Regions from separate parts of the Homo sapiens genome. Here regions 1, 2 and 3 are each reported to be linked to region 4. Evidence: microRNA targets listed by miRTarBase, many of them from high-throughput screens and not tested one by one. Region 4 holds a microRNA gene; each other region holds the end of a gene's coding sequence.

The links. The annotated mature microRNA hsa-miR-7110-3p reads UCUCUCUCCCACUUCCCUGCAG and lies in region 4 at 2,471-2,492, shown strand. An mRNA with a match to its seed (bases 2 to 7 or 8) in the 3' UTR can be bound and repressed. Matches are read on the target gene's strand: a 7mer-m8 pairs with bases 2 to 8, a 7mer-A1 pairs with bases 2 to 7 and ends in A, and an 8mer does both.
Region 1: the mRNA of QRSL1 is a reported target of hsa-miR-7110-3p. Seed matches in the 3' UTR shown: 7mer-A1 at 2,187-2,193, 8mer at 2,185-2,192, 8mer at 2,183-2,190, 8mer at 2,181-2,188, 8mer at 2,179-2,186 and 8mer at 2,177-2,184.
Region 2: the mRNA of AGPAT1 is a reported target of hsa-miR-7110-3p. Seed matches in the 3' UTR shown: 7mer-A1 at 3,634-3,640, 8mer at 3,635-3,642, 8mer at 3,637-3,644 and 8mer at 3,639-3,646.
Region 3: the mRNA of PLCL1 is a reported target of hsa-miR-7110-3p. Seed matches in the 3' UTR shown: 7mer-A1 at 3,463-3,469, 8mer at 3,461-3,468, 8mer at 3,459-3,466, 7mer-A1 at 3,451-3,457, 8mer at 3,449-3,456, 8mer at 3,447-3,454 and 3 more.

The regions. Positions count from the first base shown.
Region 1 is chr6:106,664,066-106,670,157 of GRCh38, reverse strand. It overlaps QRSL1 (glutaminyl-tRNA amidotransferase subunit QRSL1), which reads right to left. Exons shown (of 11, transcript NM_018292.5): 11 at 1,741-4,376. The coding sequence ends at 4,156. Among named protein-coding and RNA genes, the nearest start is that of LINC02526, 28 kb to the left of the region's middle.
Region 2 is chr6:32,165,766-32,171,857 of GRCh38, reverse strand. AGPAT1 (1-acylglycerol-3-phosphate O-acyltransferase 1) reads left to right here. Exons shown (of 7, transcript NM_006411.4): 2 at 353-561; 3 at 788-921; 4 at 1,258-1,433; 5 at 1,598-1,693; 6 at 1,820-1,892; 7 at 2,410-3,646. The coding sequence starts at 362. The coding sequence ends at 2,582. It overlaps EGFL8 (EGF like domain multiple 8), which reads right to left. Exons shown (of 9, transcript NM_030652.4): 2 at 5,592-5,720; 3 at 5,238-5,360; 4 at 5,048-5,157; 5 at 4,853-4,948; 6 at 4,601-4,771; 7 at 4,429-4,508; 8 at 4,202-4,355; 9 at 3,577-3,948. The coding sequence starts at 5,692. The coding sequence ends at 3,902. It overlaps PPT2-EGFL8 (PPT2-EGFL8 readthrough (NMD candidate)), which reads right to left. Exons shown (of 16, transcript NR_037861.1): 10 at 5,238-5,720; 11 at 5,048-5,157; 12 at 4,853-4,948; 13 at 4,601-4,771; 14 at 4,429-4,508; 15 at 4,202-4,355; 16 at 3,573-3,948. MIR6721 (microRNA 6721) reads left to right here and starts at 1,742; the gene lies at 1,742-1,828. RefSeq lists enhancers at 1,360-2,559, 4,068-4,820.
Region 3 is chr2:198,144,614-198,150,705 of GRCh38, reverse strand. It overlaps PLCL1 (phospholipase C like 1 (inactive)), which reads right to left. Exons shown (of 6, transcript NM_006226.4): 6 at 843-3,926. The coding sequence ends at 3,744. Among named protein-coding and RNA genes, the nearest start is that of LINC01923, 230 kb to the left of the region's middle.
Region 4 is chr3:123,159,388-123,165,479 of GRCh38, forward strand. It overlaps MIR7110 (microRNA 7110), which reads left to right and starts at 2,407; the gene lies at 2,407-2,492. It overlaps PDIA5 (protein disulfide isomerase family A member 5), which reads left to right. Exons shown (of 17, transcript NM_006810.4): 16 at 1,934-2,068; 17 at 2,493-2,717. The coding sequence ends at 2,573.

The DNA of each region.
Region 1 (6,092 bases), not on the chromosome of region 4:
TTTTTAAATCTGGTGGCCTTACCCCACTAGGAAAGCTAATTTCCCACCATATCATATACTACCCAATATTAAGCATCTATATAGATACCCTGACAAGCATTTTTTGTTTTTAATCTATTTCTGGTTTTATTCTTCTTCCTCACTTTTATTATCACTTCATGGATTTCCTCAACTATTTACTTTTATACAATTGTAATAATATATTTTTAATAAACTGCCTAAAATATTTTTGGGTTTATATTCTATTGAGGTACAAAGAAAAATAAATAAAAAAGCTCCTCCGAAATCCTGTAGTAATTACTTTTACTTAATGTTGCCTTTGGTTTTTTTTTCGTGTTATTTGCCTTTATTAAATTTTCAGGTTTATGTTCTAGTGTACACATTGCTTAAGTTATTAAATAACTGAGGAAAGCCTTCTATTTTAAACTTCCTCTGGGTCCTTCTAAACACAACGGATATGTCTTTTCCTAGGCTTGTGCCTTGGTACAGATAACCAGATGTTTGAAGAAAGGGAGGGGGACTGGGCACGGTGGCTCACTCCTGTCATCCCAGCACTTCGAGAGGCCAAGGTGGGCAGATGGCTTGCGCCCAGGAGTTCAGGACCAGCCTGGGCAACATGGCAGGACCCTGACTCTACAAAAAATTAAAAAAATTAGCTGGGCCTGGTGGTGCCACACTTGGGAGACTGAGGTGGGAGGATTGCCTGGACCCAGGAGGTCAAGGCTGCAGTGAGCAGGACTGTGCCACTGTACTCCAGCCAGGGTGAGGGCAAGACCCTGTCTCAAAAAAAAAAAAAAAAAAAAATAATAATAATAAAAGGGAGGGGGATTAAAAGTAGTTAATGAATGAAAATTTATAATAAGAGATATTTTTAAAGTTCCATTATTTTACTCCCCTGCTTTTTATTTATTATTTATTTTTTAATTTTTTGAGATGGAGTCTCACTCTGTCGCCCAGGCTGGAGTGCAGTGGTGCACTCTCGGCTCACTGCAAGCTCTGCCTCCCAGGTTCATGCCATTATCCTGCCTCAACCTCCTGAGTAGCTGAGACTACAGGCGCCTGCCACCGCGCCTGGCTAATTTTTTGTATTTTTAGTAGAGATGGGGTTTCACCATGTTAGCCAGGATGGTCTCGATTTCCTGACCTCGTGATCCGCCCGCCTCGGCCTCCGTAAGTGCTGGGATTACAGGCGTGAGCCACCGCGCCTGGCCTACTCCCCTGCTTTGAATCAAATAAGGTATGGCACACGGCTTGCTGAATCCCGAGGTCTACTTATTAGTACCTGCTTATTTCTTTTCACTATCCTTCAGATTCTGTTTAAAATCCTAAAGTTACTTATTTACATTAGGAGGTGCAGCTATTTCCTAATAGGAATAAGCACTTTTTTTTGTCATTTTGCAAGCTCCTCTTCTATACCATGCCATCTTTAATTTTAAACAGCCCAGTCTGATGTCATCACAGAGGACCCGGTGTCAGCCACTCAAAGGGAACATTCTGCCTCCTGGGTTTCAGGTGCTTTTTTTGGTAACGCTAAGTGTGGGCCAGCGTGGAACAGTGGTTTTCCCGCTTGCTCCTTTGGCTCTCTGTGGTGGCAGAGCACCATGTTTTATGATCACATCATTTTTTCACTCTGACACGTGTTCAAACTTTTGCTTTGGTTTGGGTCTTTCAGGTGTTATCAAGGAACTCATCTTACACGTGTAGACATCTTCACCTTTCAAAAACACTCTGTTCTGGAAGTTCTGTTGCTAATAATTTTAGAGTTTAATTAGCTGAGACAAAGAAAGTATTTGCCACTTAAATTCCCAGACAGTGACTTGGCAAAATGAGACCTACTAGATTAAGAGTAAAAATGAAGAGAAAAGAAAAACAAATTAGGTATCATTTCATGGTAGTTGGGTATCAGTATATGAGAACGGTAAATGTTTCACTTTTTAATTTCCAGATTCAAATTATTAGTGCAGCTCATGTAGAGATACAGGAACAAGAGATTTAATATTATTTGAAATAATATTGAATACTGAATAATATCATTGAATATATAATATTGAATATTATTATTTCGGCCAGGTGTGGTGGCTCACGTCTTTAATCTCAGCACTTTGGGAGGCTGAGGGAGGCAGATCACTTGAGCCCAGGAGTTTGAGACTAGCCTGGGCAACACAGGGAGAGCCCATCTCTCTCTCTCTCTCTTTTTTTTTAAATTCATTACATAAAAACAGATTGGGGCAACGGTTTGTTTATTTACTTGCTTTTGACATCATATTTGCTCCTTCAACTAAAATGGTTTCCTCCATCTAGGATGTTGTGGTGTCTGAGCAATTAAAAAACTTAAAACGGTTTCCTCTTGCTATAAAGTAATGCAATTTTCTCTCATGGATTTCTTCCTCTTTCAGGGATTCAGAGTCAAAATCTATAGGAATATTACTAAGCCTGGCACATAAGACTTTTATGTGAAGTTAATCAGGTTGAGTATTTGGGAGCGGGAGGATCTCAGAGAGGACAGAAAACTGTTTATGAAAACTAACAGGTGACGATGAAACATTCCAGTGGTTCTGCAGATGATTCTGACTCATTATTTTCTCTTCATGAACGTCATATTTAGAAAACAATTTTTTTTTACTAAACAAAGTGAATTTATTAAGTAACAATTCAGCTTTCATTTATCAACAATATGTAAGTGCTAGATTAAAATACCTGATCAATATGAGATGACAATGGTGTTCTAGTGAAGACACAGAAATCCAGTGATGAAGCCTTATCATGAGTAAATGGATGGTTTCCATTAGATTTTGTCAAATATTGAATACAGATATCCATTAATATCTCTGGGCTCGAGGGTCCCAAATAAAAAACACTCGTAAAGACAGTCAAGAGGAAAAGGAAACCATGAGATATAGAGAATCTGGGGTAAGGCAAGTTCTTGCCATGCGCATCCCCTCTTCTGCTTCATCAGCAAATTATCTGCATGTTTTTCAGAGTGTATGTTACTTGTGTATTTTGAACCTTTTTCACTAATACCATGCTCTGCTATCTACCAAGTTTCCAATCTGTGATGGTCTGTTAGGTTACAATAAATGTTTCGATGACATTAATGAGCTCATTTGTGATCAGTAAATAGGAGCATGAACTCAGTGTAACATGGAGTTGTTCTGGCTTCTAGGCATGGGCTCCGGAATAGCAGAAGTAAAATTGTAACTCTAAGGAGGAAAGGAAAGTTCTCAGTCATTTCAGCTCTTTCTTAGGGAAATAAAAGGAGTCCCTGCAAGTGGAGCTCCTCCCCAGAGAGGCATACCCCTGAGATTTGCATGATTCTGGGCCCTGACTGGTTGCATTTCCTCCTGTGCTCAAAGTTCCTCTTCCACCTGCTCTGCTCAGCGCTCAGAAGCCAATAATCGCACTCAATTGTTTCTGTGCATTTTTAACAACCCCTGAGGCGGCCTTCACCACATGATAAGTTGCCTGCCTAGGCTATCCAAGTTACCTCTAGAAGGACTATTCATGTTTTTGTTAGTGCTTTAGTTACACAGATGTACAATTTTTGAGAAGTTTATCCCTAATCTTATTTTTACTGTAAACTCTTTAATGAACATTATGGCAGAATGCATTGTCTTTGAGGAACAGGTATCTTGTGTTATTGTAGAAGTATTGTACACTTAGTGGATGCTTACTAAATGCTGACACGTTATTTATTATTAATTGTCACAGGAATTTTAAAAAGTAATTCCATGGAATGACTGTATTAACAAGAACCTAATTACAAGAATTGAGCAAGACCATTTGACTCTCTAGAATATAGAATCTCTGTACGTCATTTTATTTTATTTTATTTATTTATTTTGAGACACAGTCTTGCTTTGTCACCCAGGCTGGAGTGCAGTGCAGTGGCATGATCTCGGCTCACTGCAACCTCCACCTCCAGGGTTCAAGTGATTCTCCTGCCTCAGCCTCCTGAGTAGCTGGGACTACAGATGCCCGCCACTAAGCCTGGCTAATTTTTGTATTTTTAGTAGAGACGGGGTTTCACCATGTTGACCAGGCTGTTCTAGATCTTCTGACCTCATGATCCGCTCGCCTTGGCCTCCCAAAGTGCTGGGATTACAGGTGTGAGCCACTGCACCCAGCCTAAAAGTCATTTTAATTTGTAAGATATGTTTACTGTTTTAGAGAGACAGAGGCTAACTTTTCATTTTCAAGGACTGCTGAACAATCATCCATGAGTTCTTGAAGTTGAATAACAGGAAACTGTACTTGTTTTTCAAACCATTTGGCTACTGTAAGAAGCTGCTGGTCACAAAACGCACGTCCAATAAACTGCAGTCCTATTGGCAACCCTTGGTTTGAGAGTGCAACAGGGATACTCACTGCTGGCAATCCTGGGAAAAGAAGGAAACCCAGTAGGTGATTAATTCTCCACCCTAATTAGCAGAGACCTCTTCCACTTTCCAGTGCTAATAAGTACAATACAGGATAAGGTTTAAAAAACAACCAAAAATATTATGCTATATAATGCTTTTGTACTATGTTTTGTTTACTTAACAATATATCTTGGAAATCATTCTGTATCAGTTCACAGAAACCTTCTTCATTCATTTCTTATTGCTGTATAGTACTCCATTACTTGGTTTTACCATAATTGAGTAAACCAGTCTTCTGTGGTTGGGTATTTAGATTGTTTTCAATATTTAGCTATTTTATACAATGCCCCAGAGAATTACTTTGTGTATGTATTTTTTTGGTATTCTTGAAATCTTCTTAGATGAGGAGGAGATTGCTTCATCAAACGACAAATGCATATGTAATTAGATATTGCAAAATTCCCCTGCAAAGAAGTTGTACCATTTTGAACTTCCACCTATAGCCTTGCAGACAGAGTGTGTTGTTCAGTTTTTGAATTTTTGGCAATCCATTAGATGAGAAATTAGCTCAGGGTAGTTTTAATTCCAGGTTTGGGCAGAGAAAGTACAAAATCCCAGACCATCTTGTTATACAATAAAACAAGTTTTCAAAAATTAAAATGGGGACAGTTTTAAAGGATACATATAACTTGAAGGGGCTCTTATTGGCCAAATTTAAGGCAATTTGACCATCAAAAACAATACTGACAGTAATTGCTTATAATACATTGAATTAAAGAAAAAAAGGAAGGCTCTTCTTTAGAGAATACTGCTAGCTAATAAATGTAGAAGGAATGACAGATTTAGTAAAGCCAGAATTTTGTAATTCTCTAGCTAATATTTCAAGGATGATCAATGAATGCTAAAACTGGGTTCAAGATAATTGGAAAATAGGATATTCACATGGTCTCAAAATATTACTCCAGAAATTGCTTAAAAAAATGATAAAAGGAAAAATGTACCTTTTTATAAGGAAACATCTAGCAGTTACTTCCTTAGCGAAGTGATCAACTTGGTTTCCAAAAGTGAGACAAACTGATATTAACTGTTTCCTGACATGAAGATTATGTAGTACTTCTACCAAAAATGTTTAACTCAACCCAATCATGAGGAAGCAATCTGACAAATCCTGATTATGGATGGGACATCTTACAGCACAAGTGGACTGGGCTCTTAACATTTTTTAAGTGCTAAAGATAAGAACTGTTGAACCAGAGTTCTACATCCAGCAAAAATAACCTTTAAAAATCAAAGGGAAATCAACACATTCTCAAAAGGAAAGCTATGATAATTTTTCATCAGCAGACCTACCCTAAAAGAAAGGCTAAAGAAATTTCTCTAAACAGAAGTGACAAAATAAAGAATCTTGGTACTTCAGGAAGGAAGAATGAACACAGTAAGCAAAAGTATAGGTAAATGTAATAGACTTTCCTTTTCCTCTTAAGTTTTCTACATTATGTTTGATGATTGAAACAAAAATTATAGCATAGCCTGATGTGGTTTTAAAGAAAAAAGAGAGGTGGGGTGATTGTTCTAGATTTTAAAAAGATACCATAAACCAATGTAATATATCAGGAGGAAAGACAACTTATAAAAGACACTTTTGGTAGAACTGAGAAAATTTGAATATAAACCATATTTAAATTATTCTTCAATCATGTTAGTTTTCTTAGGTATGACAATGGAATTGTGGTT
Region 2 (6,092 bases), not on the chromosome of region 4:
AGCACAAGTATAGACCATTATAAGACCCTTACCAGCTACAAGTGTTAGCTATTATTCTTGTTGTCATTTATTATCAGGTATCTGTGAATTGTAGATGTCTGTGTCTTGTGTCTCTTGTCTGAATATATCCGGAGCCTTTGGGAAGAGTGGTGGGAGAGCAGTCCTGAGCTCTTTCTCCACCACCCTCATCCTAGAGAGCCTTCCTGGGAAGGTTTCAATGAGACCCCTGCCCCAGTTTGTGTCTCAGGCCCTTGTCCTCATAGCACCAGCCCCCAGCCCTGCCTTCTGTGCCTTGCCTACCCCACTCTCCTCCAGAAACCAGGCTGATTGTCCCTTGCCCCATCCCCTGCAGGTGGCCAGAATGGATTTGTGGCCAGGGGCATGGATGCTGCTGCTGCTGCTCTTCCTGCTGCTGCTCTTCCTGCTGCCCACCCTGTGGTTCTGCAGCCCCAGTGCCAAGTACTTCTTCAAGATGGCCTTCTACAATGGCTGGATCCTCTTCCTGGCTGTGCTCGCCATCCCTGTGTGTGCCGTGCGAGGACGCAACGTCGAGAACATGAAGTGAGGGGCAAGGGGTCTTGGGCAATGAGGGAACCTAAGGGTACAAAGTGAGTAGTGGATTGGGGGAAGGGGGCATGGTGTGTGTAGAAAAGACTGAGAGAGACCAGAGACAGGGAATGGGGAGAGGACTGCAAAGGTGGTCAGAAAGACAGTAAGGTGGGGGGAGCTGAGGCATGCAGATGGACATCAATGGATCCCACTGGGACCCCTTGCCATGACCCCACAGGATCTTGCGTCTAATGCTGCTCCACATCAAATACCTGTACGGGATCCGAGTGGAGGTGCGAGGGGCTCACCACTTCCCTCCCTCGCAGCCCTATGTTGTTGTCTCCAACCACCAGAGCTCTCTCGATCTGCTTGGTGAGACCCCACCACAGGGCACACCTCCCCCAGCCATGCCTCCCCTCCTGAAACCTTCCCTAGAATATCTTCTCCTAGAGATCCTCAATTCCCCTTCCTCTGGGACATTGCCCCCTTGCCTCCCACTCAGGCCTTCATTCCCTGGGTAGAACTGCCCTCATAAGCAGGTTACATATACTTTTGGTCACCCTTTCCTTCACTTGGGGCCCCCCTCCCTGCCTAGTCTCCTCCTTCACCTCCAGTCCCTACCAGAGGGTGATGAGCTGGGTGAGGTGGGTTGCCTTCTGTGACACTCTGCCTCCACCCCGATCCTCACCCACTCCCACCCTGCCCAAGGGATGATGGAGGTACTGCCAGGCCGCTGTGTGCCCATTGCCAAGCGCGAGCTACTGTGGGCTGGCTCTGCCGGGCTGGCCTGCTGGCTGGCAGGAGTCATCTTCATCGACCGGAAGCGCACGGGGGATGCCATCAGTGTCATGTCTGAGGTCGCCCAGACCCTGCTCACCCAGGACGTGAGTCATCCTGGGGAAATGGGGGATTGGAGGGATACAGAGTAGAACAGTTGTAAATAAACTGATATGCAGGGCCAGTGGGCCTCAAAGGTCCCATTATAACATCACACCTATTCTGACTCCTCCATATGTATTTGTCTTCTTTGACCCTCTTTCTCCCCCAGGTGAGGGTCTGGGTGTTTCCTGAGGGAACGAGAAACCACAATGGCTCCATGCTGCCCTTCAAACGTGGCGCCTTCCATCTTGCAGTGCAGGCCCAGGTGACTACTGCTCTTCGTTCTGCTACTCAGCTGCCAACCCCCACCATTCCCTCATCTCTGGGCAGGGGCTTATTGTAGGAGTCTCTGAAGAGAGCTGTGGACTGACCTGCTTTAACCCTTCCCCAGGTTCCCATTGTCCCCATAGTCATGTCCTCCTACCAAGACTTCTACTGCAAGAAGGAGCGTCGCTTCACCTCGGGTGAGGGCTTTGAGCAGTTCTGGGGTAGGGTGTGTCCGGAGAGGCTGGGAGGACATCCCTGTGAGGCAGGGGGATCATTCAGTGTCAGAGCCATGAGATGTCTACACAGTCATCTAGTCTAACCCCACATCAGCCAATAAGTCTTTACTAAGCACCCACCATACCCTGCCAGATGGGTAGCACTTGGTCCCACCAAGAGAGGCTGTTACTAATCTTAACAGGAAAGATAAGGCCTGTGTGCACAAAGCTGTAATGAATAACACTCATTCAGCAGTAAATGCCAAACCCAGAGGAGGGGGGCTGGAGGGGTGCTGAGGAGATGTCTGAACTGGGGATTGGAGAAGGCTTTGTATAGGAGAAGGGCCTCAGAAGTGGCAGCTGGCAAGCCCAGGGATGGTTGTCCAGGGTTGGGGGAAGAGAACTGAAAGGTTGAGGAAGAGTATCACTCGGAAGCTGGGCCCCACCTGTGGGCAAAGACCTGGGTGGACAGGCCATGATGGTGCTCCCCTTGCCCCAGGACAATGTCAGGTGCGGGTGCTGCCCCCAGTGCCCACGGAAGGGCTGACACCAGATGACGTCCCAGCTCTGGCTGACAGAGTCCGGCACTCCATGCTCACTGTTTTCCGGGAAATCTCCACTGATGGCCGGGGTGGTGGTGACTATCTGAAGAAGCCTGGGGGCGGTGGGTGAACCCTGGCTCTGAGCTCTCCTCCCATCTGTCCCCATCTTCCTCCCCACACCTACCCACCCAGTGGGCCCTGAAGCAGGGCCAAACCCTCTTCCTTGTCTCCCCTCTCCCCACTTATTCTCCTCTTTGGAATCTTCAACTTCTGAAGTGAATGTGGATACAGCGCCACTCCTGCCCCCTCTTGGCCCCATCCATGGACTCTTGCCTCGGTGCAGTCTCCACTCTTGACCCCCACCTCCTACTGTCTTGTCTGTGGGACAGTTGCCTCCCCCTCATCTCCAGTGACTCAGCCTACACAAGGGAGGGGAACATTCCATCCCCAGTGGAGTCTCTTCCTATGTGGTCTTCTCTACCCCTCTACCCCACATTGGCCAGTGGACTCATCCATTCTTTGGAACAAATCCCCCCCACTCCAAAGTCCATGGATTCAATGGACTCATCCATTTGTGAGGAGGACTTCTCGCCCTCTGGCTGGAAGCTGATACCTGAAGCACTCCCAGGCTCATCATGGGAGCTTTCCTCAGCACCTTCACCTTCCCTCCCAGTGTAGCCTCCTGTCAGTGGGGGCTGGACCCTTCTAATTCAGAGGTCTCATGCCTGCCCTTGCCCAGATGCCCAGGGTCGTGCACTCTCTGGGATACCAGTTCAGTCTCCACATTTCTGGTTTTCTGTCCCCATAGTACAGTTCTTCAGTGGACATGACCCCACCCAGCCCCCTGCAGCCCTGCTGCACCATCTCACCAGACACAAGGGGAAGAAGCAGACATCAGGTGCTGCACTCACTTCTGCCCCCTGGGGAGTTGGGGAAAGGAACGAACCCTGGCTGGAGGGGATAGGAGGGCTTTTAATTTATTTCTTTTTCTGTTGAGGCTTCCCCCTCTCTGAGCCAGTTTTCATTTCTTCCTGGTGGCATTAGCCACTCCCTGCCTCTCACTCCAGACCTGTTCCCACAACTGGGGAGGTAGGCTGGGAGCAAAAGGAGAGGGTGGGACCCAGTTTTGCGTGGTTGGTTTTTATTAATTATCTGGATAACAGCAAAAAAACTGAAAATAAAGAGAGAGAGAGATCTGGGTGTTGGTGGTTGCATTTGTTAAGGAATTGAAGAAGCAGTTCTTGCCCAGGCAACCTGCCCCCAGCCAGAAGACTCAGGGGCAGGCCAAGAACACAGGCCTCCCCCTTTCTTCAGCTCTCTGAAGTTTCCATTGTTCATTGCTCTTTGGTGGCTGATAGCCTTATCTGCAGCTCACAGTCGGCCAATCCCAGAGGATTAGTGGGTCCGGTTTCTGTATAAATTAGGGGGCAGGGGTGCTGTAGAGGCTTCTTATCGATGATTGACGCCGAGGCCCAGGCTGTTGTCCTCACAGGAGCCTGGTTAATGACATGGCAGACACAGTGGCTGTGGTCAGCCTGGAGTGGACTACACTGCCACTCTCACCAAACAATAAGTGAAACTGTTGGGCTGGGGACAGGATTTCAGAAGAGAACGATGGTAAAGTGGAGAGGCATGAGGATAGTGAATGTTGGAGAGGGGCTTGGAGGAAAGAGGGAATGCCTGAATGGAGAGGGGTCTTGGGGAAAGTTGGGGAATAGAAGTCAAGGCGGGAGGAGTGTGAGGACTCACAGGCACCTAGCCTCTCCTCCAGCAGCAGCACCTGGTCGCTGAGAGATTCGATCCGGTCACCCCGGCCCCACAGCTCAGCCACCTGTTCTGGCTGCAGCTCTTCAGGCGGCACGGGCAGCACCGCTCTGACCCAGGCCCCAGCCTGACCGGCCCACTAGAAAGGAAGAGATGCCTCAGGGTATTGACAGTGACGTCTGGCCTCGCCCCACCCAGCAGGCTTGGCTCACCTGCTCCAGCCGCTCCAGGCGCCCTCGCAGCTCGTGAATCTCCTGCTTCAGAGCGCGCTCATCTTTTTCCGCCTCCCGAACTAGGGACAAAGGAGACCAAGAGTGTGACCACTACCCGAGCCCGGACGCCCGTCCCGAGTCCCTCGGGTGGCCCGTACTCCTGCCCACTCACCGGCCACGCTGAGTATGCTGGCACTGGTTGGGGGCTCTGGGGACCCCTCCATGCAGGTGCGCCCGTCCACGCCTAGCACTAGGTCATGGGGGCAGCCGCAGGTGAAGCTGCCTGCCGTATTAAAACAATGGTGCGAGCAGAGGGTGATGCTGGTCCTACATTCATCCACGTCTAGTTACCGAAAAAAGGAAGGGGCTGAGAGAGGGGGCGGGGGCAAGCACCTGGGTAGGTGGGGAGGACAAGCTGACTCACCCACATGACAGTGCTTCCCTCCCCAGCCGGGGGCGCACTCGCACTGGTCAGGCCTAACGCAGACGCCTCCGTTCAGGCAAGGCTTGGCGCAGATGGCTGAGGACAGAGGAAGTGGGGTTCAGACTCAAACCGACGACCCAGCTCCCCAGCTCCGTGGGGCGCGCCTCCCGCAAGGCCCGGAAGACCCAGCCTCACCTTCACAGGTGAGCGCCCCCGGGTGCCGCTTCTTCCAGCCCTGGCAGCACACTGCATGGGTCTGCTGAACCTCCCGCCTCACCTCCCGCCACATAACGCGGTACATGGTCCTGGAACACAGCGCCCGGCTCAGGACCCTGAGTACGGGTCCTAGTTGGGGTTCTTGGGGTCCCATCTCCCCATCCCTCACCTGTAAGTGCTGCAGATGCGCCTCCCAGCGCACAAGGTCAGGTAGGGCTTGTACACTGGTTGGCTGTAGGACTCGTTGTAGTGGAGCGGGACCACCAGTGTCTGCTTGGAGCAGACTCCCTGACTGCGTCCATGCCAGAGGATGAGGTGGGAGAGATTGAGTAGGCCAGGCCCTGGGGAGCCAGGAGTCCCACTTCCCTCAAGAGGCTACTGAGGCCCCCCGCTCTCCCTCCAGATGACAGCCTCTCACCCCCATTCTAAACTTACAGTTATGTTTTGCCTCCTGTGAAGCCCCACCCCCAGCAGAAGGCTCCTGAGAAGAGCTCACCCCGGGCCCTACCCCCTCTGTTGTCACCTCTCTCTGAGGGATCCACCCTTGGCCCCCTCGCCTGGTATCAGTAGCAGGAGGAAGGAGAATCCGCCTAAGAGAGTGCACAGCTCAGCCCTGGACCCCATGATTCGCTTTGACGCTGGACCCTACAGGCTGCAGGCAAGAAAAGGTTAATGGATGCCCGTCCCCTCTCCTATTAATTTCTCCAGCACTAGTCCCTCCAAGGGCACTCTGCAGGTACCCTCTAAGGGAGTCAGGACATTCACTTTTACATACTAGCCACCAGGATTGCCTACACCTGTGTGTACAACCCAACACTATCCTGTCCTTAGCATATCATGATCCTTTCAGCATCATAAAAGCTCACACCCCAGCACACTCCCTCCACCTCCCCTCTAACCTACTTACTTCTAATCCCCTCTGCACAACCTGGAGGGACACACAGTCAACCCTCCCCTTATGACCCTCCTGTCTTTTTTTGGGTTTTTTTTTGTTTTTGTTTTTGAGAAGGAGTTTCGCTCTTAC
Region 3 (6,092 bases), not on the chromosome of region 4:
AGATTTTTGTAACTTAGAAGATTGGCAAAGATGAAAATAAGAAAAATTAAATTTATCATTAGCAAAGATTTAAGCACTCTCATAAACTCCTGGTGGGGTTTTAAATTGAACAAGTTTTCCTGAGACTATTTGGCAATGTATCTCAAAATCCCTAAAAAACAAAAATGAAACAAAACAAAAAATCTCTGTATCCTTTGACCCAACAATTCCACTTCTAGAAATGTATCCCAAAGAAAAAGTTGAACAACTTTGCAAAAATGGATTTTATTATTGGAATGTTTATATAACAAGAAATTAGGTGAGTAAAATCTAGCAATAGGAGATTGGTTAAATATATTCTGGTAAGCCATATAATAAGATACTGTATAATTATTATAAATGACCATTAATTTTTTTTTATTTTTTAAAGACAAGGTCTTACTATGTTTCCCAGGCTAGTCTCAATTCCCAGCCTCAAGCAATTCTCTCATTTTGGCCTCTCAATAAATGATAATTTTCATCAAGTTTCACCACCTATCATGTCCTTAAGGTCCAGATGTAACATAAATGAATGAAAAGGCTCTCTAGAAAATTGGACAGCATATGCCCCTTTTGGAGAGGGCAGTTTCAATTAACTGATGCCAAGCAAGAAAGTATATGTGTGGTGGTTGTGAGGTGGGGAGTGGGAGGTGTTCTGTGTTGTTAGATTATCCAGTATTTTAAAACATGCAGGACATTGAATTGTACGTAACATTTTCTGAATTTCAAAAGCTGTCTATTGCTTAAAGATTTTTTTAAAAAATGTTCAATGGCCAAATAAAACACATCATTTTTGGACTAGATTCAGTTCAAATGCTTGGAACTCTAATGTAAATACACATTTATTGACACAGAAAGATATCCATAACATATTGTTAAAATTTTAAACACCCTGCTACAAACAGTTTATATAATATCTCAATTTTGTTAAAATACAAGCATATTTACATATATGTATAAACTCTAAACAGTGTCTAAAGGGATATAAATCAAAATGTTATTAGTGGGTAATTTTGCTTTTCTGTTGTATATAGTTCTCTATTTTTGTATTTTTATATTGACCATTAATATTTTATATTCAGAAAATAAATGATACAGTTCTTTGTATCTGTGGTTATAAAGGTAAGAGTTAATAGTCTGGTTTAAAATGTTAAGAATAAACTTAAAATCAAAATCACTAAGTATATAATCTTGCACATGAAATCAGACAGACCCAAGTTCAAAATCAATTATTCCATTAATTACCTCAGTGGCTTTGGGCTTTCTCACCTGTAAAATGCCAGTGATAATACCCGCCATCTCCACCTCAGATCCTATTGGTGATGTAAAAATGAATAAATAAAAATAGAATTAATATCTAAAACACTACATTCCTAGCATCACCAAATCTAAGTAGATAGAAGAGAGAAGGGGGCTTTTTCTACCACAGTTCAAGTCTAGAAAGGAGACAGATGCTCCTCATAGAATGTAACAATGTCATGGAGGCATAATACACAAAAAAAAATTGTTTGTTTTTGCTATTCTATCTGGAGGCAGGAACATCACAGGAGACTAGGAGACTTTTCCCTTGCCACCTCCACTCCCAGAATCCAAAGCTCCTCCCTGCTCCACATCTCACTCCCCATCTAGCAAGGACACCCAGTGGAATGAAGCAGAGTATGGCTGACAACCCACTGCCAGAAATAGCATCAGATGAGGCAGAATCCATATTACGTTTTTGAGAATTTTTGGGTGGGTCCTAAGTGTGAGTAGAGCTCTGGGACAAATAAAATAAACTAGAGAAGCTACTTCCAAGGATTGGATTTGACCCTGGAGTAAATAAATGTATAAATATTGTTTGAGAGTTTGTCATCCTTTATCTCCTCTTCCCACCTAACTGTATATCCAGTAAAGACATGGATTTACCAAATAGAATTCAAGTAGATGAAGAGGTACACTAGTAAAATCAACCAATCAGCTGATGTAAGGTGGGTTTTGTTTCTGTCTATAGAACCTCTTTTTCACCACAAAGGGCTTAACACCTGCATTCCACTATTCCTCCTACCAGCAAGTTAAATATAACAGAGGGTAAAGAAATTTTTTCAGGCCATTGTAGCATCATTGGAAACTTGCCTTCAAATGACTTCAGGTACCTCCTCCTCGAGTGCCCAGTTTTAAACCCAGGGAATAATTTCATCATATCTGGTCCATGGAAATAGCAAACTCTTTAAGATATTTTTGATGTAGTAACCCATTTTCATTAGCTTTGCTTTTTCAATTCACAATAAAAGAAAACAATAAGTGTTTTTTTCATATCTTTACTCTTTCAGTAATGTGCAACATAAACATAATAGTGTTAAGAAGTCAGAAATAACACAGAAGCTATAGGAGATGTTTATATTTGCAAAATTTCAACAATTATCTTCTCTAGGTTTCCCCAAATTAGCATATTTGTTAATCAAATTAATTAAGAAGCTTTTCAAAATAAAAGCAATGCTTTAAATAAATATATTCTTTCATAACCATAGAACATTTAGTTCTGTTGGAGGTAACAAACATTACACTCAAGTACTTTATGAAGACATTAGGGTAAAAATTACCTAGATGCAATTATAAATGTACCCTAATTAGTCATTTCTTTTTGCATGTATGCTTTTCTGTGTGTGTTAGGGTTATATCATAGATGTGTGGTAACTGGTTAGCTCTTAAATTATCACAAAGATATTATCGGACCCACAGAATTTATATCAGCTCAATGTGATGATATGATATTGTTTGAACAATATCTTTAAATTTAAATTTAGTACCCTAAATTACATCCAAACAAAGCCAACACCTCTAAGCTGCCATATCTGTTATAGAAAATGAGTGCTAGACTCTCAGCTTGGAAGAATGAGACCTTCCTACAAATCTCGAAATTATACAACAATATTATTGTCACATCAAAATCCTAATTGCAACAGAGCTTTCAGTGTGTTTCAGAGTACCACACAGGTAGGTATAAATTCACTTATGATCAGCTTTTCTAGTGAAATCATATGTTTAGTAAATGACTACAGAAAACTTCCTAAAAATTGATTTTATTTAATAAATATTTTTTAAAGTTTTCTGACTGAAGAAATGACCTTGCTAATCTTTTTAGAAATTCTCATCATCTGTTTAATCTTTCATTCACTTTTATTTCTACTCTGATTCTTAGGAATTTTTCTAATCTATATTTAATCTACCAAAACATCTATGCTTTGATAAATTTGGCTTCCTTCAATAATAAGCTATGCTAAGATCACTAAATTAAATGTCAAAGGCAGAGAAGTCAAATTAAACACAGCAACAGGTTACAGTAAGTGCTCTTTAGAATTTCAGATTAAAACAATTGTCCCAAAATGATCAAGGAATAACTCACTAAATGAATAATGCAACACAGAATAGATTTTAACAGAATTTCTCTCTCTCTCTCTCTTTCTCTCTCTCTGCCACACACACACACACACACACACACACACACTCTTCCACAGGCATCCACACAGGGGTGTTGACACATGTCTCAGAATTTAAAACACTGATACTAAAGGCTTTAATTTAGATAAATTAACTACACTGAAATACTGACATTGTGAAAATATCTATGTCCAATACCCCATATAGGGCACCATTTTGTGAACTTATAAAACATTTAAAGAAAGAAAACAAGAATGAGAAACCAGAGTCCTTGATAAGATGGGTGAACGTGTCGATAATGCCCAGAGTCACAGCTTCCCATTCTCCTCACTACTTTCCTTCTCCTCTATGGCTTCCAGGCTGCGCTTGCTCTTGGCCTCAGCACTGCTGCTGGGGGCTTTACTCAGTCCACAGGACAGGCATGCCAGCTGGATCTGCTTCATGTTTTCTATAGCTTCATTCTTGGCATTCTTCAACAGATCTCCTTGGCCCTACAAACAGAAAAAAACAGGCATCAAAGAAGACAGTTATGGGCCAGGCATGTGCTGAGTGACATCACTCTATGTTCTTACTGCCCATTGCTGAATAAGGAAACAGACCCAGACCTGCAAGCTCACTTTTCCAGGGTTTAACCCAAGGTTCTTTTCTAACATTATTAAGTGACTTTGCTTGTTAAGCCAAGTACCTCAACCTGAGCCTGACCAGCTGGCTATGCAATTGCTGGCAGTCCGTTGAGATTCCTATTGTGAGGAATCCTCCTCTTTATGTGCTGAGGACATCAACTCTTCCATCACCATGGTCTGAGACTCTGCACACTGCTGCAATACCTACCCCGCCCAGATCCAGCATTCCTAGTCTTGGGAGAAAACAAGGAAAGAAGCTCTTCCTTAAAGAAGTGAAAATAAAATCTCCCCCTCTGTACAAGAGCTTACAAAGCAAAGTGTCTTCTGTAAAGTAAGTCACATACCCTTATGCTTGGTGAGCTGGTTTTTAATATACTGGGTCATCCTTGCAATCTGCCTGTTGTTAAATTATCAGTCACCCACATTACTTCTGCCTTTTCCATCATCCTGAAGATGATGTTCCCACCTGGCAGATGGAGAAAAAGAGTCTCCAGAGGCAAAACAAAAAGGAAATGAGGATTGCAGGAACACATTAGCTGTCATTTACATCAGTGCCCAACAGAGATCTTTTCCTGCTATTTTTATTTCTTATTTTAGTTCACTGTTATGAAGATAAAGTGCGTATACTGATACTGGCCCAAGGGCTGAATGACTGAGTGTGGGGAAGCAGGGACAGGTGTCTATGGCCCATAGACAGAGGAAGAAGTAGCTTCTTCCCTCTCCTCTCCATTCTCATGGCAGTGCCTGAAAGTGTGACCTTGAAAGGACAATATGGGTGGATATGGGGTTATGACGATTGCTGGAGCATTATTCTACAAAGCAGAGGCTCAGAGAAAGGATAATTTACCTATTTTATGAAAGGCCAGTAAATGCTTTTTCCTTAGGGTGTATGAAGAAACTTGTATTTTACAAAAGCTTGGAATATTTTATTTCTCAAAACCTAAATATGCACTTGCCAATTCTATCCTCTGTAAAAAATAGCTAAATCCTTCTAATAGCAGCTTTTAATTATATGGGATGATTAAATAGTTGGGCTTTGCCTGATGTTTGTGTTAAAGCGAACTTCTTCTCAAGTACATCAATTATGGTATGGGATTTTGGAAGAAGAGTTGGAGGTGGACAGTTTTGCCTTCTCCTGAGGAGAAATGAAGCTGAGCCTGATGAGGTTAATTGACTGTCCCAAGGTCACAGCTGGTTAATCGCTGAGCTGGGACTAAAGTTCAGGCCTTTGGCCTCCTGCATCAATGCTCTATTCCCCACACCATGTTTACAATCTAGTCTGAGACTAAAGACTAGAGATTAGAGCCTAAAGACTCTGTCAGTGAGAGATGTATTTTCTAAAGAAAAAATATTTACTACACCAGCAGACTTTGGGAAGTCTGTTCTTAACACTATAGACATCACGAATGAGTCTGCTCAACAAAACTGCACATTCTGCACATGTATCCCAGAACATAAATTTAAAAAAAAAAGTGAAGTCACATCCACTTTGAAAAGTGCAACTCTTCAGTAATAATAATAACAGACCAACATATGAAGTGCTTGCTCAGTGTGGTCACTCTTTGTGCTTTATACATGTTCATTCAATCATTCATTACAACATCCCTATGAGATGGGTACTTTCATTATTCTCAATTTACTGATTAAAAAAACTGAGGCCCAGAGCACAGTCACCCTTCCCAAAGTCATACAGCTGCTAAGTGGTAGAGCTGGAGCTTAAAATCCAGCAGCTGGCTCCGGGGTCTGTGGTTTTAACCACTACCTGATAGGCATCTTTTAACAGCAAAGCAGGCACTCTCTGCAGGGCACCCTAGAGACTCCTATTCATTGTTACCCATGGAAGCAACGCAGATAAAAAGAAAAGCATTGCCCATGTGACACAGCCTGACACAATTTAGAGATAGCATCCAGAATCAGGAAGACAGGGCAGAGCAAGAACACACTAGCAGGGACGAGGGTTGGAGCATCTTCAACCAATTTTTATCTGGGCCATTTTCTCTTCTGCAAAAATGATGAAAATATCCTTCAGCCTTC
Region 4 (6,092 bases):
CAGAAGTGCATAGGGGCCAGTCTGCTGGCCTGGGTGAACTGGGCTCCAGGGGGTGCTGGGGAAGGTATGTTTAGCCTACCTGAAGGACAGCTGCCTCTCTGCCCAGCCAGTTGTCACCTGTGAGACTGCAGGGTAAGTGCCATCAAGTCTTCTGACTTTTAAAGAGAAGCTGGAAAGCCAAATTGTTGTATTAAATCTTCTGGCTCCATTTCTATGTTGGAGCTAATTCAGATTTATTTTTTTTGTTGTTGTTAAATTCAATGTGGGCCAAATAGAAGAGGACTGAGAGCCAGATACAGATTGCAGGCAGCAAGTTTGTAAACTCCATTTTAAAAGTCTCACCGTATAGAATGTTACATAGCTGAAGAGTAGAAGGGAAGCGTGAGGGTGAGGGGGGTGAAGGTGGCACCTGGTGGCCAGGGGAGGCCGCACCTCACTCTTCTCTTCAGCTATCCATCTGGCAGCTCACCTGGGCATGAGGGACATGATGAGTAAACGTGGCCATGGGGGCCCACAGGATTCTCCTACCTGGAAAGGGGCTTTGTCCAAATGCAAATAACCATCAACCAAAGAACTGTGTGAATCATGGTTATTCAATAATTTTAAATTATCTTATTGAATCACCCTCTTTTAATTTCTTCCAAGCATTCATTGAGCTCTATCTAAAATGATCTAATTTGTCATACAGCAGACGCTTGATAACTGGACTTTGTCAAGGTCGACGTTGTCCCCCAGCATCTAGAACAGGCTTGGCACACGGCAGGGTTTCAGTGTGTGTTGCCTGGTAGGAGGACTCATTCTCATGGGAATCTGCCCCATCTTCCATAACACCTCTGTACTGGGTATGGCCATTGAGGACCCCTTCTCGGGCTTCCCTGGTGCATGACCCTCAACCGGAAACAAGTTCCCCATTTCTGCTTTATACTGTCTTCCTTTGAAAAAACAACAAATGATGAGGAAAAGCTACCCAGCATGTGGAATTTGCTAGATGGTCAAGAAGAGGCCAGTGGCCAATGTGGGAACCACTTTCTGACCAAACATTCTGATGGCTTTACTCATGCGGGGCTCCTCCAGTTTCCAGATGTGCTTCCCTGGTCTCCTCCTCTTCCAGTCTTGGCTCAGATGGCGAATCATACAGAGCGCCTTTGCCCCACTCACCTGGCACCTGGACCACCTCCCTCATCCCTCACATCACATCATGTTGGAATTGTCCCTTTATCCAACCCCTGCCCAGACACTGAGCCCCTAAGTGGGGACAGAGCTTGTATATGGGGTTGGAAGAAGTGACTGTAATAGCAGCTGACATTTCCTGACCATGAATCTGGTGCCAGGTTCTGTGCTCACTGGCCTCACTGGAATTCTCTTATTCAGTCTTCACAATATCCTGATAGCCTAGATACTATTATTATCCCCATTTTACAGCTGAAAAAAATGAGGCACCAAGAGGCTGAGTTATTTTCCTTAAGTCTTACTGTCCAGGCAAACCAAGAGTGCACTTGGGGAACTTGACTTGAAAGCTCTTGCCCTTAACCTTGGCACTATACTGTCCCCCCAAGCTAATGTTCCGGAAATATTAGTGGAGAAATGATTAAATCCTACAGTCCCTTACAGATAGCACCACAGAACCTGTGGTGTTTACAAATGCTTTCAAGTCATCATTTCCTTTACGATCATCATACTCTTGATTTTAAAGGACAGTCTAAAGGCACTCCAGGCCGAGTCCCCTAACCTTACCCATCTGGAAATTGAAAACAAGCACCATCAGTCTCCAAGGAGTCCTGAGCTGGGGGTGCTTTGGTTCAGTTCCTACCTGCCACTGAGGAGAAAAATCAGAGTGGGCCTGTGACGTGGACTAGATGTGCAATCTGTGTTGTGGGGTCCAGGCCTCAGCCTGGGGACACCCTGTGCCAACTCTCTTTACCTTGGCTCCTAGATTGCCTGTGCCGCTGTTGACTGTGTCAAAGACAAGAACCAAGACCTGTGCCAGCAGGAGGCGGTCAAGGGCTACCCCACTTTCCACTACTACCACTATGGGAAGTTCGCAGAAAAGTATGACAGCGACCGCACAGTAAGTGGGGGAGAGGCGTCTGCCCAGAGCTCTCTCTCTGCTGATGGGCAGGGAAACTTCCACTGAGGAGGGGCAGCACTGGGCAGCATCCCAGAAACTGCAGAAGTCAGCTGGAACACTGCACCGAGAGGCCCAGGCCCTGGGCCTGGCTGAGGCTTGACATTGTTGGAGGAGAGTCCCAAGGGGTTGCCACAGATGTCCTGTCCCCAGAGGCAGGCTGGACTCCAGATGCCGAGGGTTTTCTCACTTGCTGGTCGGGGCTGGTGCAAGCCACGCAGACCCTCTCCACCTTGCAGAAGTCTGCCCACCTCTCCCTGTCATAGGAGTGACCCCCTGGAGGGGCTGGGGGTGTGGGGAGAGAGAGTGCACAGCCAGCTCAGGGATTAAAGCTCTTTCTCTCTCTCTCTCTCCCACTTCCCTGCAGGAATTGGGATTTACCAATTATATTCGAGCCCTCCGGGAGGGAGACCATGAAAGACTAGGGAAAAAGAAGGAAGAGTTATAATTCCTGCCTCAGAAAAAGCTTTTCCATTACACTGTGAATGATACCTGTTTTGTTGTTTCTGAATTTCCACATGTTCTGAAGACAAATTTTTTATAGCCGCTTATGGCCATTTTGTACAATTTTGAAATAAAATTAAACCATTTATTTGGTGGTATGGTTTATTTTCGTGGAGCCTGTACTAAAAAAGGTGGATACTCACATCCTCCTCATTCCACCACCTCTGCTGGGAGGTACAGAGCAGTGCTCCAGTGCCCCATCTGCATGGAGGTGACTCCTGAGGGTGTCGGCCCCCTGTCAGTCATTTGAGAGCAGAACAGGGAAACTGGACCGCAGAATATCCTGCTGGAAAATGACAAGCTAATGAGAGGAAATACGTCAAGATGATCAATGACTTTGGGAGGCTGAGGTGGGAGGATCACTTGAAGCCAGGTGTTCAAGACCAGCCTGGGAAACATTATGAGACCTCATGTCTACAGAAAATAAAGTTGCTGGGCATAGGGGTACATGCCTATAGTCCCAGCTACTTGTAAGGCTGGGAAGGGAAGATTTCTTGAGCCCAGGAGTTCAAGGCTGCAATGATCTATGATCGCATGACTACTCCAGCCTAGCTAGAAAGCAAGACCTGTCTCAAAAATAGAAAAAGAAAAAGAAAGAAAAAAACAAAAGATGATCAGGGAAATTGGGATGCTGAAGCAAATGGTAACCAAACACTAGCTTCTTCTGGATCATTGCGGTTTCAGCATTGGTGTGTTTCCTCTGTGTGTGTTTTCCTGGAACTTACTTAGGTATTTATCTTTCTCCAGCTATTTGTCTTCTCTTCGTCTCTCCATTCCCTCCCCAATCTCCCTTTAAAGAAAATTAAGTTGCCGCTTCAGGGGCATGAATGGAGTGGGGGAAGGGGGGCTCTGTGCCAGCTGCTTGCTGTGCACCCTGGCTGGAAGGGATGGTGTGTTCTCGAGGTGCAGATATTAGATCTGCTCACCAGCCCCCACCACCAACCATAATAACCCCAAATCTTTACGCCACGTTTTCCATGGATGGGTGCCTTGCTCGGCCTCCTGCCTGTGTACATCTCCTTTTTGACCCACCTTTCTGGTGAGTCCTCCTGCTTTCTGCATTCCTGCGTGACTGACACCCCAGCCCTGTGCCCAGCGGTGCAGGCAGAGCCTGAGCACAGCAGTAACATGTTTTGTCTGCTTGGTGGTATTTCTCCATGGACAGCAGAGTGGCCTTGTGCTAGTATCTTGTCTTTAGTTATAAGTAGCGGTCCTAGAGTTGGATTCCTCCAGTAGTTCAGGGGGGCGTTGCTTAAGCTGCAGTACTTGGAAGCACGCTCTGGTGGCCTTGATGGGGACTTGGCCTGCAGGAACAGCCCTCCTTTCCTGGACCCAGCTCCCTTCCTCCTGGCCTAAGTCCTTCCTGCTGATGAATCTGCTGAGAGGAGGACAGAGCCTCCAAGTTCTTCACAGCTGTTTTGACGATGGTGCCACTGTGGGTGGTTTCATTAAGGGAAATCAAGGTTTTGAGAGCCCTTGTTCTGTGCAGTTCTCCAACTTTCCAATTGACCCTCCTGCCAGTTCAGCTCTTCTCTTTTCCCCTAAGCACCCACTTCCTTGGCAGTGGCCCCTGGACTTCACCCAAGGATTGGATATGAAAGACAGAAGCATACATTTAGACATCATTGAAACACAATTATTGAGTCCCTTCCTGTTGGGGACCATGAACATCTTACAAGGTGTCATTTAATCCTGACACAGGTGTTTACCATTCTAGCATGTGTGTGTCTGGACATGGGTCTCCTTCGTTATTTGGAGTATTTGTAGGGGGAACATATTTGCTTGTGTTTTTCAAAAAAGTTTTTTGTTTGTTTGTTTTTGGGTTTTTTTTACTGCACCTTTTCAATAATAATCTCACAAGAGCCACTTCCTGGCTGAGGACCACTAGTGCCCACCTGCGAGGCACAGGGCTTACTTTCTGGCCATTCCACATCCTCAGAGTTCAGATTTTCCTGGCTTAGCTTCTATTTGAAGACTTAAAAACATGAAATATTGTCAAATATAGATTTAAAGAAATTTTTTAACACATCATGAAATGGAATCCTCTTCACATCCCTATTTATTGACTTTGGGCATGACCTCAGCAAATTTCGTCGCAGCTCTGGGCAGCTCCCCCTGCGGACAGAACTCTCTTCCTCCACTCGCCCCCTGGCATCCGGGTTAGTTCTACTCCCAGTCACCATGCTTGGTTCTTTGTGGTTTCACTGATGTTTAGTGCAGACCTCCTCCCTCTGCCCCACTGGAGGGCTTGCTATCACCCTCCTCTGTTCGCCTGGATCCTGCGTTGCAGGCTGATTTCTCTGCAGGAAGTACGTGAGTTAGGGGAGAACTGATCCCCATCTTTATTCTGGTGCCCCTTGCCCAGCAGTGAGTCCCCATCACCACCTAACTGGAGCCTTCCGAGCAGGACCCTGTCTCTCTTACCTTCCTCATGCTGCTCCCTCCCCTTCTAGAGGTGTTTGGCTTCCAGGAGCTGTTCTGCGCCGGGCACGGGAAGGTGATGCTTCCAGGTTCAGAAGCTGGTTTTCTCCACCGCAACGTAAGAAGATGTGGAATCTCATCTGGAAAGCATCAGGCCCTCTTAGGAAGGCAAAGCCTATGTCCAGGGGTTACATCACCTGCCCACATCACATGGAATAACACAGGCACCAGCCCTGCCCGCAGGAGGCTCCCAGTTTGAGAGTGAGTGCACATTGGTGCTCAGAACCAAACTCTGTGCATTGTGCTCTTACTGTTTCCCATTCTTTTATTGTTGACTAGAAGAAGGAAGCTGATATTCTTAAGCTATCTATCAAAACCAAATTATGCTTATGGTCCCACCAAATATATGTCACCTCCAAAATCTTCTATTTTAGGCCAGTGTTATCCAATAGCCATTAGCCACATATGAGTATTGAGTACTTGAAATTTGGCTACTGCAGCTGAGTGAAGGTGTGTATGTCTATGCCTTTTTATATTGTGGTAAAATATACATAGCACACAATTTACCATTTTAATCATTTTTAAAGGTACAATTCAGTGGCACTAAGTACATTTACATTGTTGTCCAACCATCATTATGATCCATCTCTAGAACTTTTTCATCAACCCAGACTGAAACTCCATAACCATTAAAGAATAACTCTCCATTCCCCACTCCTCCTAGCCCGGGTAACCACTATTCTACTTTCTGTCTCTATGAATTCCACTATTCTAGGAACCTCATATAAGCAAAATCATACATCCTTTTGTATCTGGCATATTTCACTTAGCACACTGTTTTCAAGGTTCATTCTTGAAAGTATGTAGCATGTATTAGAATCTCATACCTTTTTAAAGGCTGAATAATATTCCATTGTATGTGCATACCATATTTTGTTTACCCATTCATCCATCAGTGGACATTTGGGTCAGTTTCACCTTTTGACTATTGTGAAGAATGCTGCTGTGAATATAGATGTACAAGTAAATACCTCTGTGACAT